Linked DNA regions of Homo sapiens: region 2 is linked to region 1. Evidence: fine-mapped expression QTL. Tissue or cell type: whole blood. Region 1 holds a variant in brackets; the other region holds the start of a gene. All regions are shown on one strand. Distances are between the middles of the regions.

Region 1 (5,690 bases):
GCAACTTCCTGACAGTAACGTGCCATTACCCTGGGGGGTAAAGGGCTATTTAAGTCCAGACTCAGCCATTCCCACCAGCCACAACAGAGCCAGACCTCTCCGTGCCCCGGGAGGGTGCCCTGAACTCAAAATGTCCCTTGGCGATTGGGTTTAATAACAGCATTTTCAAAGGCACTCCCCAGTCCACCATGGAATGTGGAGGCTGCCTCCTCTCCTGCCTCCGCTTTGCGGCACAGCTGTGGCTCTGGGTCCCACATGACTGCACAAAGTCAATGCCAAGGGCGTGACCAGGGTGCCCGAGACCTCACTGTGGTCTGGGTGGAGCCCCAGCACTCAGGGTGCAGCTGCGCAAAGATTGCAGGCGCCTCTCCTGGGGCCTGAGCTTGTAAGTGTCCTTTGGATGTTGGGATGGGACACCTGACTCCTCAGTAGGGCACAAGGGGCCACTGTAGGAATAAAACTCAGAAAATCCCCCTGTTCACACTCAGCAACAGCCAAGCCCCCTTCAGTGTGATGCTGTGGGTGCTGACCTACAAATCCTCACCCAGACACCTGCCACCCCGGACCCCACAGAATGGGCAGGACGAAGATCCTCCTGGTTTGGGGCGAGGAAGTGACACCCTGGTCCCAGGACATCTCCAGGGTCCTCTGTCAGATACACACCCTCACCAAGCTGGCAAATAGGATGTGTCCCCATTTCACAGATGAGGAAAGTGGAGCCCAGAGAGCTTCCACGACTTTCCCAGGGTTGCAACAGAGCGAGGAGGGTCAAAAGGAGGATGGAATGGGCATGGCCCCCAGCCCGTCCTTGACCACCAGTTCCTTCCTCTGTCTCCAGTTCCAAAGGGGTCATCACAGAGCACTTTGAAACCCCAGGGCTTCCCCCACCGACCTCCCCCACTGACCTCCGCCGCTGACTTCCCCTGCTGACCTCTGCCACTGACCTCCCCCTCTGACCTCTGCCGCTGACCTCCACCGCTGACCTCCCCCGCTGACCTTCCGCCGACCTCTGCCGCTGACCTCCCCCTCTGACCTCCGCCATTGACCTTCCCTGCTGACCTCCACCGCAGACCTCCCCCGCTGACCTCTGCCGCTGACGTCCCCCACTGACCTCCCCCTCTGACCTCCGCCACTGACCTCCGCAGCTGACATCCCCCGCTGACCTCCCCCGCTGACCTCCGCCACTGACCTCTGCCACTGAACTCCACTGCTGACCTCCCCCACTGGCCTCTGCCGCTGACCTCTGCCGCTGCCCTCCCCCGCTGACCTCCCCCGCTGACCTCCCCCACTGACCTCTGCTGCTGACCTCTGCTGCTGCCCTCCCCCGCTGACCTTCCCCACTGACCTCCCCCACTGACCTCTGCCACTGACCTCTGCTGCTGACCTCCCCTGCTGACCTCTGCTGCTGACTTCTGCCACTGACCTCTGCCGCTGACCTCTGCTGCTGACCTCCCCCGCTGACCTCCCCCACTGACCTCTGCCATTGATCTCCCCCGCTGGCCTCTACCACTGACCTCTGCCACTGACCTCCCCTGCTGAACTCTGCTCCCTCTATTTGTCCAGCTCCAGCTGCTCAAGAGACCCTGCAACCCTGAGGCCACCCCCTCTCCGTCAACCCCATGGACAAAGTGAGCTCCTTCCCCAGCTAGAGAGGCCTGCACCCCCACCTGGCTTCGTGTCTGCTTTCTTATGTGTTTTTGTTTACTTTTCTCTCCTCAGTCTTTCTCGTGGATATTATTCATATTCCTTAACTCCGTTTCTAGTCCCTAAGACACTCTGGAAACATATTATCCTTGCCTGAAAGATTCCACTCATAATAAAGTGCCTTGCACTGAATGTGCTGTTAGAATCACAGGAAAACAGGTGTCACTGGAAGCTGCCCTGCCGGCCGGAATCCTGGAATAGGGCAACACCTGGAATGGGCCTTTGTTGGCTCCAGAGAATAGAAGCTGGTGGCTGTCATGTGTGCCAGTCACCACTTACACTTGGGCATCGGCGTCTCACAGCAGTGGAAGATGCATGCTTGAAAGTGAACGAACAGTCTTTCTTTCAGCCTTCTACTCCTTACCCCCTTCAGTAGGGTCTGTAATTTGAAGATCCATTTCGTATTTCCCATGGCTGCTTGGTGGGTTTTGTAGAATGACCTGAATCTTAACCTTTTCCAGCCAAAGAACAGGCATTTCTAGAAGAGCTTATTGATGGCAAAAAGGAAGAAAAAAAAAACCTTCACCAGGATATTCCTCCTGAGGAAAATGACTTTTTAAAGCTTTTGCAATGCC[A/G]AAAAAATACAAATGTGTGGATATCACTTACACTTCCAATAAAAGATGACAGCAACGTGGACTCGTCAAGTGGACGCCATGGTCTCCAGGTGAAGCCACTTTCTATTCAGCAAAAGAGAGGAAATGGAGGGTGATAGCTGCCAGCACCCACAGTGCTCCAGATGCGGCCTGGGGCGGGTGTACGCTCCCTTGCAGCTTCACACTGACCGAGGCAAACACTGCTATTGCAGCTCTTTTGAGATTAAACCACTAAGAATCTAAGAAACCAGATGACTGCCAAGGCAAACTCAGCTCCTTCTCGCATGAGATCAGGGCAGAACCCAGACTGATTCCACAGCCTGTGCCTTCCTTCCCTGTCACGGCATCTTCTAGAGTTCTCTGGAATCCCTCTACTGAAGCTGAGCCAGAAATCTCTCTTGAGTGGAAGTGGAGCTGGTCCCAGGTGTGCCAAGCACCAAGCGAGGTGGCTGGAAATAAGAATTAGGTCACAGTCTCCCGGGAAGCAGGTGGGGAGGCTGCTCCCTCCTGACTGCCATGTGCACCCCGACTCCAGGGAATGGACAGTGCCGACCGTGTTCTGAGGGTGCCCCGCTCTTGGTCTGGTGCCAGCACCTGCCTGGGCCTTGCCCTCTGCCTGCTGGGCTGGGATCTGATGCTGCGACCCAGCCCAGCACACCCAGTTCTGCTGCCCGCATAGCCAGAGGACTAGCGGACTTTGTGTGATGTGGCTGCTTCGTGACCCCCATTCAGAGAGGCTGACGGAGTGCGAGGGGCATGGCCCACGGGCCCACCGTGGGGTTGCAGGGCCAGGGCGCCGCCTGGCCTGGGCTGAGTAACGATGAGCTGCTGGGACAGTGGGGGCTGCAGCAGAGACCCAGGGTGGCTCGGAGCGTGGCTGCTGCACCTTCTCCCAAGCCTGGCCACTGCAGGGGACAGCGGTGGAGACCCTTCCATCCTGCAGCATTCCCAACACTGCACCTGCTGCCACCGGCGCACGCTGCATGCCAGGCAACAGGGACAGAGCCCACTCAGACAGAGCTTCCATCTCAAGCTTCAGCCTTGGACTGCTAATGCTAAAGTTGAGCTTTCACCATCAGCCCCAGTGCGGAGCCCCGGCAGGCTGCAGAGTCTGCCCAGCACCCCTAGTCAAGCAGGTGCCCAGTCCGGGATGAGAGCCACCCTGCATCTCCACGCAGCCCCACGTCCCCAAGTGTCAGGGCCTTATGAGGGCTGCGTCCTCCCTCTCCCAGTGCACCCCGCCAGGCTCCCCCCGTAGTCCGTCCTCCACAGGTTGTGCTGTGAGCTGGCCCCAAAACAAACCCTGCAGTGGGAGGAGCTGGAAGTCACCTGGGCTCCATCTCGCCTCCTCGTCTGTCACCCTCCACTCCATGCTCCTGGAGCTCTGGGCCCTCCCGGCCCTGCCTGCTGCCCCCTTCATTTGCCAGGCTGGCTTGTTTTCTTTTTTCTTGTGTCCACGTGTCTATCATTTTCTCTGGGGGCTGCATGAACTGCCCCTTCTTCTGGGCTCTAGAACATTTCTCGTCAGTAGGCTTGTGTGCTCATCTTCCCTATGGGACTAGAAATTCCTCCAGAATAAGGACCAGGCAGTGTTCATCTGTGTATCCAGAACCCAGACCTATGCTGAGAAGGAGATAGACATCCCATAAATATTTACCAAGCAAGCGAAAGAGAACGTCGCCTCTGACTGGCTAGCAGACATACCTTATCTTCTTCTTCCAGCAGGTGTGGATAATGACCAGGAGAGGTTTCCCAGGAACAGGTCCTCGACGATGCTTCTCATCATCAGCCTCTTCCTCCCCATCATGACAGCCCTTTTGGTCCGGTGGGCCATCCTCTTCTCTTACCTCACCAGCACGGAAGATTTGTTGAGATGTATGCACTCTAGTTTTTATTATTAAACCAAGAGTTGCTTATGTTTCTAGATAGAAAAGTATAATTGTTGGATAGATTTTTCAAAATGCATTTTCCTGCCCAAGGGAATCACCGACCCGGAGGGTGTATTGCCGCCTGACAACGGCCCACGTGTGCCCAGCACTGGGCTGCCTCTCGCATTTGGCAGCCGGGTCCTGCTGGCGCCTCTGCCCAGCGCTCTCCCACCCAACGCCTGTGCTGTGAAGGCTCTCAGAGCCCACCCGGCCCATTCCTCCCAGGGCACCCTGAAGAGCACCCCCACCCAGCATGTGCTAGCACCATGGGGTGGCACACGAAGGGAAGAAATCAGTGTCTCATTCCTTAAGAGGCGCTTTAAAGTGTGTGAAAAGCATGCACTTGTGAGAGGAATTGCAAACAAAGCAACACAATGGGGCCTCTGCCTCCTCTTGCCAGAGAAACGTGTGCATGCACACGCAAACACAATTTTACAGATGCTGCAAACAAATTTTCATCAGCACAGATTTAGCTTAATAAATTATAGTGTCTTCCTATGACAGAACGTCATGCATTGAATCGTGTGGAGAAGTTTTTTCAGTATATGTTGAGTGGAAAAGCATGGACATAGTATGTACATGGCAGTCACAATTTGGGTGGAGTGAAACAGCCGGGAATACCTGCGATGACGGTGGGAGCTGTCTCTGGGGTCATGGGCACCTGTAGTTTTCTTCTTGTGCTTTTGTGCATTGAAATTTTTTTTCTACAATGAATTTGCACCATATAAAAATTAGGACAATGACCATATCACGTGAGAGACAGAGTGAGCCGACTTCCCTGTCAGGCCCAGCACCGCATGGCTCCTTCGGGGTATGAGTCAGGTCTTCATATCTTGGTATCTGCAGGGCTCAGCCCAATATGTGTTTTTGAATAAATATATGTATTCAAAGCTCATCCTCTAAATATACTAACAAAATATGCAAAGAAAGTCTTACCTCAATTAACGTTTGGAGAAACTTTGATTCAAAAGCACTAGCTCAGGGCCAGAGGGAACAAAGCTGAGAGTTCATGAGGGCCTGGCCCAGAGAGGTCTTTCCTTCACTGGGAGATTGTGGTTTCCAGGCCACATAAGGAAAAGTCGTCTGGAGTTGAACCCAAAGATGACAAAAAGAGCAAAACACTCATGTGTTCCTTTTTTTTTTCTTTTTTTAATCAATATATAATTGATGTAAAAGGAAACATGGAGATCATATATGTTCAGCTCAATGTGTTCTCACGCTTGCCCAGGCCCATGTCACACCACACAAGGAAAGGCATAAAACACACTTTCCACCAAGCCAGAAAGTTCCCTTGGGCCTTTCTGATCAAATGCCCCGATTTCTATCCTTATGGCTTCATTTGCCTGTTCTTGGACTTCCCACTAATGGAGTCACACAGTGTACCATCTTTTGCCTCGGACGTCTTTTGCCTACCGTCATGTTTCGAGGTGCGTCCACCCCGTTGCCTGGATCAGCATCCATCCCC
Region 2 (5,287 bases), 90 kb after region 1:
ATGACAGCGAAATTATTTGTCAGCCTGGAAATTTTCATGTCCTAAACATATACCAGTTATGGGAGTGTTCATGATTTAAGAATCATAGGTATTCTATGAATTTTTGGCTGCTCTTAAACATTTGTCAATAAACTAATGTTGGTTGGGACCTACAATAAAGTGTAGTTTAGATATTGATATACCACTCATACATAATACAAATGGGGACTTTTAATGACAGTCAGAAAAACGAGAATGATTCACATTAATTTCGAGCCTTCTATGTGTCCTGCATCACCCAGTAGGTATTTCACATATGCTATATGTTTTTTATTACAAAAATAACACTGCAGAGAGCCCATAACTGTTTTCCAGGAATCCTGAATTTTCTCTTTAGTGATGCTACACATACTTACTTTGGACATCAGCAATCTAACTGCCGGCTTTGCAAACTCATTCTTCAAGAGGCAAGTCATTCTTGGTAACAGCGTCCTCAGGAATGAAGCTCCTGCAGTTGAGGTTCAGTGAACGCTGCGTCAGGGATCTGCGCAGCACGTGTGGAACCCAATGAGAGTCCTTGCTGTGCAGGCACCGGGATGCTCACATAGTAAAAACTCGAGTCCATCGGGAAGCCCAGGAACTGAAAGGCATAAAGAAACCGAGTGCTAGAACACGAAGATGACATTTAGACACAGATGCTTTTCTGCAAGTCACCACACTTTAATTTTAAGAAAGGAGACTAGCGATCTATTGAATAATTCATTCCCTCATGGCACTGGTTCAACACCCCAGGCTCCTCTGCTGAGAAGCCTCCTTATGTAGCTGTACTGGACAAGTGCGGTAGAAAAGACAGAACCCAGTGGGGATGACAGAATTCTTTAATTGTCTGCAAAAGAGGAAATCCAGTTGGTGGAGAGAAAAATTATTTCCACATTGGAAAAAAAAGTAATGACAAAAATAAAAAGGCTTTGTCAAATATAGTTCACTCTTCTCATTACTTGCCTTAGTGTTTCAAAGATAAACGCTTTTTGTTACAACACATCACAGATAACGCAACTTCGCCTGACTGAACCCGGCGTGGGGAGACTGCAGAGATGGCGCTCTGCAGCCAAAACAAAGGGTGGGGGAGGGGAGGGGCAATTACAAAAAAGACACCTTATGAAAAAAAATCCCTACAATTCACAAAGCTTGCTACTGAAATTAATTTCAGGTTTCCACGTCCACGGGGACACGTACAGGATTTAAAATGACGATCACGTGGCATCTCTCAGGGCCAAATGGGGCGCATCAAAGCTTCCCCTCGACGTTTATTAACTCTGCAGTCCGTTCTCTACGTCTGCGAAGAATTGGCAGATAACGATGTGTCTGAGAGAAGAGGCGTTTTCTAAGGAGACACACAAAGGGAGTGGGACCCTCCAACCTCACTCTGTGAGAGGAACACCGCACAGCAGTGTGGGGGCTCGAACACCCCAAGAGCGGCAGAGCGCGGTTCAGAAAACATGACCCTTGAAATGCACACAAAGCCTAACAACGTGTCCTCCGCGGAAGAAAACAGCTTGAAAAGGTCGGCTTTGAAGTGACCCAGCGGAAAGGAATCACCCTGGAAGAAACACGCAGCAGCCCCGGGGCAATGCGCGGGCAGGAGGAGCAGCGAGCGCGGGGAGCGCAGGGCCCTTCGGAGAGGGCGCTCCACCGGCCCTGCGCTCCGTACCTGTGCCGCCACGCCCACCGGTCCCCTGCTGAGCCTAGCACCGCCCATTTAGACCCAGCACCACCCGTCCGGACCGAACCTAGCACCGCCCGTCCGGACCCAGCAGCGCCCATTTGGATACTGCACCGCCCGTCCAGACCCAGAACCGCCCGTCCGGACCCAGTACCACCCATCGGACCCAGCGCCGCCCATTTAGACCCAGCACCGCCAGTCCGAACCGAACCTAGCACCGCCCATGGGACCCATCGCCCGTTCGGACCCAGCACCGCCCGTCCAGATCCAGCACTGCACCCCCATTTGGATCCAGCACCGCCCGTCCAGACCCGGACCCGCCAGTCCGGACCGAACCCAGCACCGCCCATCGGATCCGGCGCCGCCCATTTAGACCTAGCACCACCCATCCGAACCGAACCTAGCACCGCCCATCGGACCCACCGCCCGTCTGGACCCAGCACCGCCCGTCTGGAACCAGCACCGCCCGTCCACAGATCCATCACCACCCATTTGGACCCAGCACCGCCCGTCCCCGCCCGTCCGGACCGAACGCAGCACCGCCCATCGGACCCAGCAGCGCCCATTTAGACCTAGCACCGCCCGTCCGAACCGAACATAGCACCGCCCATCGGACCCATCACCGCCCGTCCAGATCCAGCACCGCCCATTTGGATCCAGCACCGCCCGTCCGGACTCTGCACCGCGCGTCCGGACCCAACACAGCACCACCCATCGGACCCAGCACTGCCCATTTAGATCCAGCAGCGCGCGTCCGAACCGAACCTAGCACCGCTGGTCGGGAAGGAACCCGGTACCGCCGGTTGGGACCCACCACCGCCAGTCCAGACGGAACCCTAGCACCGCGCGGGGCCCGCCCTCCGACACCTCCCTCCCTGGCGGCCGCGGCAGCAGCACCTAGTGGAGCGGCCCGGAGGTGCGGCGGCGCCGCGCGGGGCGGCGGCGCGCACGGCGGGCGGCGGCGCGCACGGCGGCGGGCGGGGCGCGGGCGGGTGCGGGCGGCGGGCGGCGGGCGCCGGGCGCACACCGGCCGGCGGGGCTGAGGCGGCGCGGCGCGGCGCGGACTGAGCCCCAGGCGGAGGCCAAGTCGGAGGACGCGGCGCGGCCGCGGAGGCGGAGGCAGCCGCGGAGGCGGAGGCGGCCGGCGGGGGGTGGCGAGGGGCGCCGGGCCCCCGCGGACCTGTCGTCCTCGGCCCGTCCTCCGGCCCCGGCCCCGCGCGGCTGAGGAGGCGCGGCCAGGACCATGTCGGCGGGCGGCCGTGACGAGGAGCGGCGGAAGCTGGCCGACATCATCCACCACTGGAACGCCAACCGGCTGGACCTGTTCGAGATCAGCCAGCCGACCGAGGTGAGCACCGCCGGGCGCGGGGCCTGCGCGACCCCCGCCCGCTGCGCCGCGCCCCGCCCCTCCCCCCCGCCGCCGCCCGCCAGCCGCGGACCCGCCCTCCTTTCCCCCTCCCCCCTCCGCCCCTTCTCTCCCCTCCCCCTCCCCCAGGCCCACCGCGGGCCCCGGCGTCCCCCGCAGCCCCCGTCCCCCTGCCGCGGTGTATCCCGGGGTCGCGCGGGCCGAGCGGGGGCTGGCGGGGCGCGGCAGTCACCTGTTCCCCTCTCCGGCCGCTCACCTGGTGGCTCACCTGGGCCGCCGCCCCCACCCCCGCGAGCGCGGCGCGGCCCCGGCCTCATCCCCGGCGGCGCGGGGGGCGCGGCGGCGCGCGGGGCCGGCGCCCTCCACCTGCAGCCCGGTTGTGGCTCGCGGCGCCCCTTCGCCGTGGCCGGGATGGAGCCTGTGACGCGCGCTGTGCTTCGGGTTCATAAACTTGCAGGCTGCCAGCTGGGAGGGGAAAGTCAGTATCACAAAGTTCGGGAGGTGCGGGCTGCCTGATGGCACAGGCCCGGAGTCGGACGCCTCCGAGGAAAGGCGCGCCTTCTCCACCTTCGGGGCCGCGAGGAAGGGCCCTCTGCGGCGGCCTCTGCCCGGAGGGAGGCGCCGGCCCCAGGCTGGCTCCCTGAGAGGAGGAGGAAATCACGCTCGCTCCTGGCCTGGTAACAATGGGGGTTGTTTATAGCAAAGCTGCTGAAAGCGTTCCGAGCAGCTTTTAAAAAAATGTTTGAGTCCAAGTCCACTAGGAAGGGCTCCGTGGAGAGGGGAGGGAGGTGAAGGGTCGGGGAGCAACCCTGTAAATCGCTCCGCAAGGGTCGGTTCCGCGCTCTGTTCATTCGGTGGCTGCACAGACTTTACCAGCATAAAAAAATTTCACTCAATATTTGTGCCCGTTTAGGAAATCATTTTAATAGCGTCTATTTTTGATTTGTTGTAATAGGTAATTTATAGTTAATACTTGCTATAAAATACTAGCTCCTAGGCAACAAAACATGTTTGGCAGATTTGAACATTCTTACGAAATGTAATCCTTTTATCATTAAATTCCACTTTATGTTTTTGAGAGAATTTGACTATTGCTTCTCTGATTTCTTGAGTTTTTGCCAGTCATGGGAAGGACTCTATTTCTTCTGTTTTCATCTGTACCTGTGACTGCACTTGACGTGGGTAGCTAGCCATTTGTCTTAATACTGAGTTGAATACTGACACACGCCATTAGGCTCAGGTTGTCAATTTGAGCATAGATGTTATGTTAAGTTACTCCTGATTCATTCATCTTCTGTAATGATTTTATGAGTTAGGTTCTAGTAAGGGAGTTAGTACTATGTACTTAAGTGTTCGTTCATAGACTAGTGTATCTTTAGAAAGGTGACATGATAATTTAGTTTCAGGATTATGTTTTCTTTTAGAATAATGAATTCATTTTTCTTTTTATCACAAGGTAAAAAAAGTTGACCATAAAACATTTTCTTGGTGTGTAGCTTTTTTTTTTTGTTTGAATGGATTTTTTTTTTTTTTGAGAGATTTCTCAAGTCTGGTGGAAAGGAATCTTTTTTCGGTTTAATAAAGAGAATTCAGCTTTTTGGGATTTTGAATTGAGTTAGCATTAAAAAAATCTCAAATCAGAAACATTATAGTTCATTGATTTAATTAAATTCTATTTTAAGCACTCAATTGAAACTTTTTATTTCTTAGTGATATGACTAGTTTTTAAAATTGGCCTGTCATTTGGAAAGCTGTTTTTTCAGTTATACTGTAGGTGAAAGTTTGCTTTGTACATACACTGAAGCAAAACAAGAATTGAAGGACTTGGAAAAAAAGATGATATATTTCATTTCCTAATTTTTCTCCCTACTTATATCTGAACATTTCCATTTTTAGAAATTATTCTTCAGAATTGTATTAGAAGCCTTTCATAATGAAATGAATGGTTTTTAAGAATGTCCATATATTGGTTTTTTAGCTTTTTTACTATATAGTGGCTGGCTCACATTTCTATTTTGTTTTCTCGAGAACTTTCCTGTACTATTAAATTTATTCTGGTCCTAGTTAAGCTTTGCATTTAACATATTGTATCTTTTATTATGATGTAGGTAAACTTAATATGAGTAATTCTCTCAGCCAGTATTTCAAGGCCAACAGTTTCAATTTGCTTTGTCTAAGCTCGTGTGAATTTTTTTTTTTAACCATCTAATGATTATTTT

The links. PIP is the estimated chance that this variant, and not a neighbour inherited with it, causes the effect.
Region 2: AFDN starts here. The variant in region 1 is fine-mapped to the expression of AFDN in whole blood (INTERVAL, PIP above 0.99).

Annotation. Positions count from the first base shown.
Region 1 is chr6:167,734,205-167,739,894 of GRCh38, forward strand. No RefSeq gene overlaps it. Among named protein-coding and RNA genes, the nearest start is that of LINC02487, 41 kb to the left of the region's middle. The variant A/G (reference allele first, on the strand shown) is at 2,280.
Region 2 is chr6:167,824,188-167,829,474 of GRCh38, forward strand. AFDN (afadin, adherens junction formation factor) reads left to right here and starts at 2,724. Exons shown (of 34, transcript NM_001386888.1): 1 at 2,724-3,050. The coding sequence starts at 2,946. It overlaps AFDN-DT (AFDN divergent transcript), which reads right to left and starts at 2,609. Exons shown (of 2, transcript NR_027906.1): 1 at 1,216-2,609; 2 at 1-619. RefSeq lists silencers at 1,693-1,762, 2,677-2,876 and enhancers at 2,347-2,416, 2,447-2,526.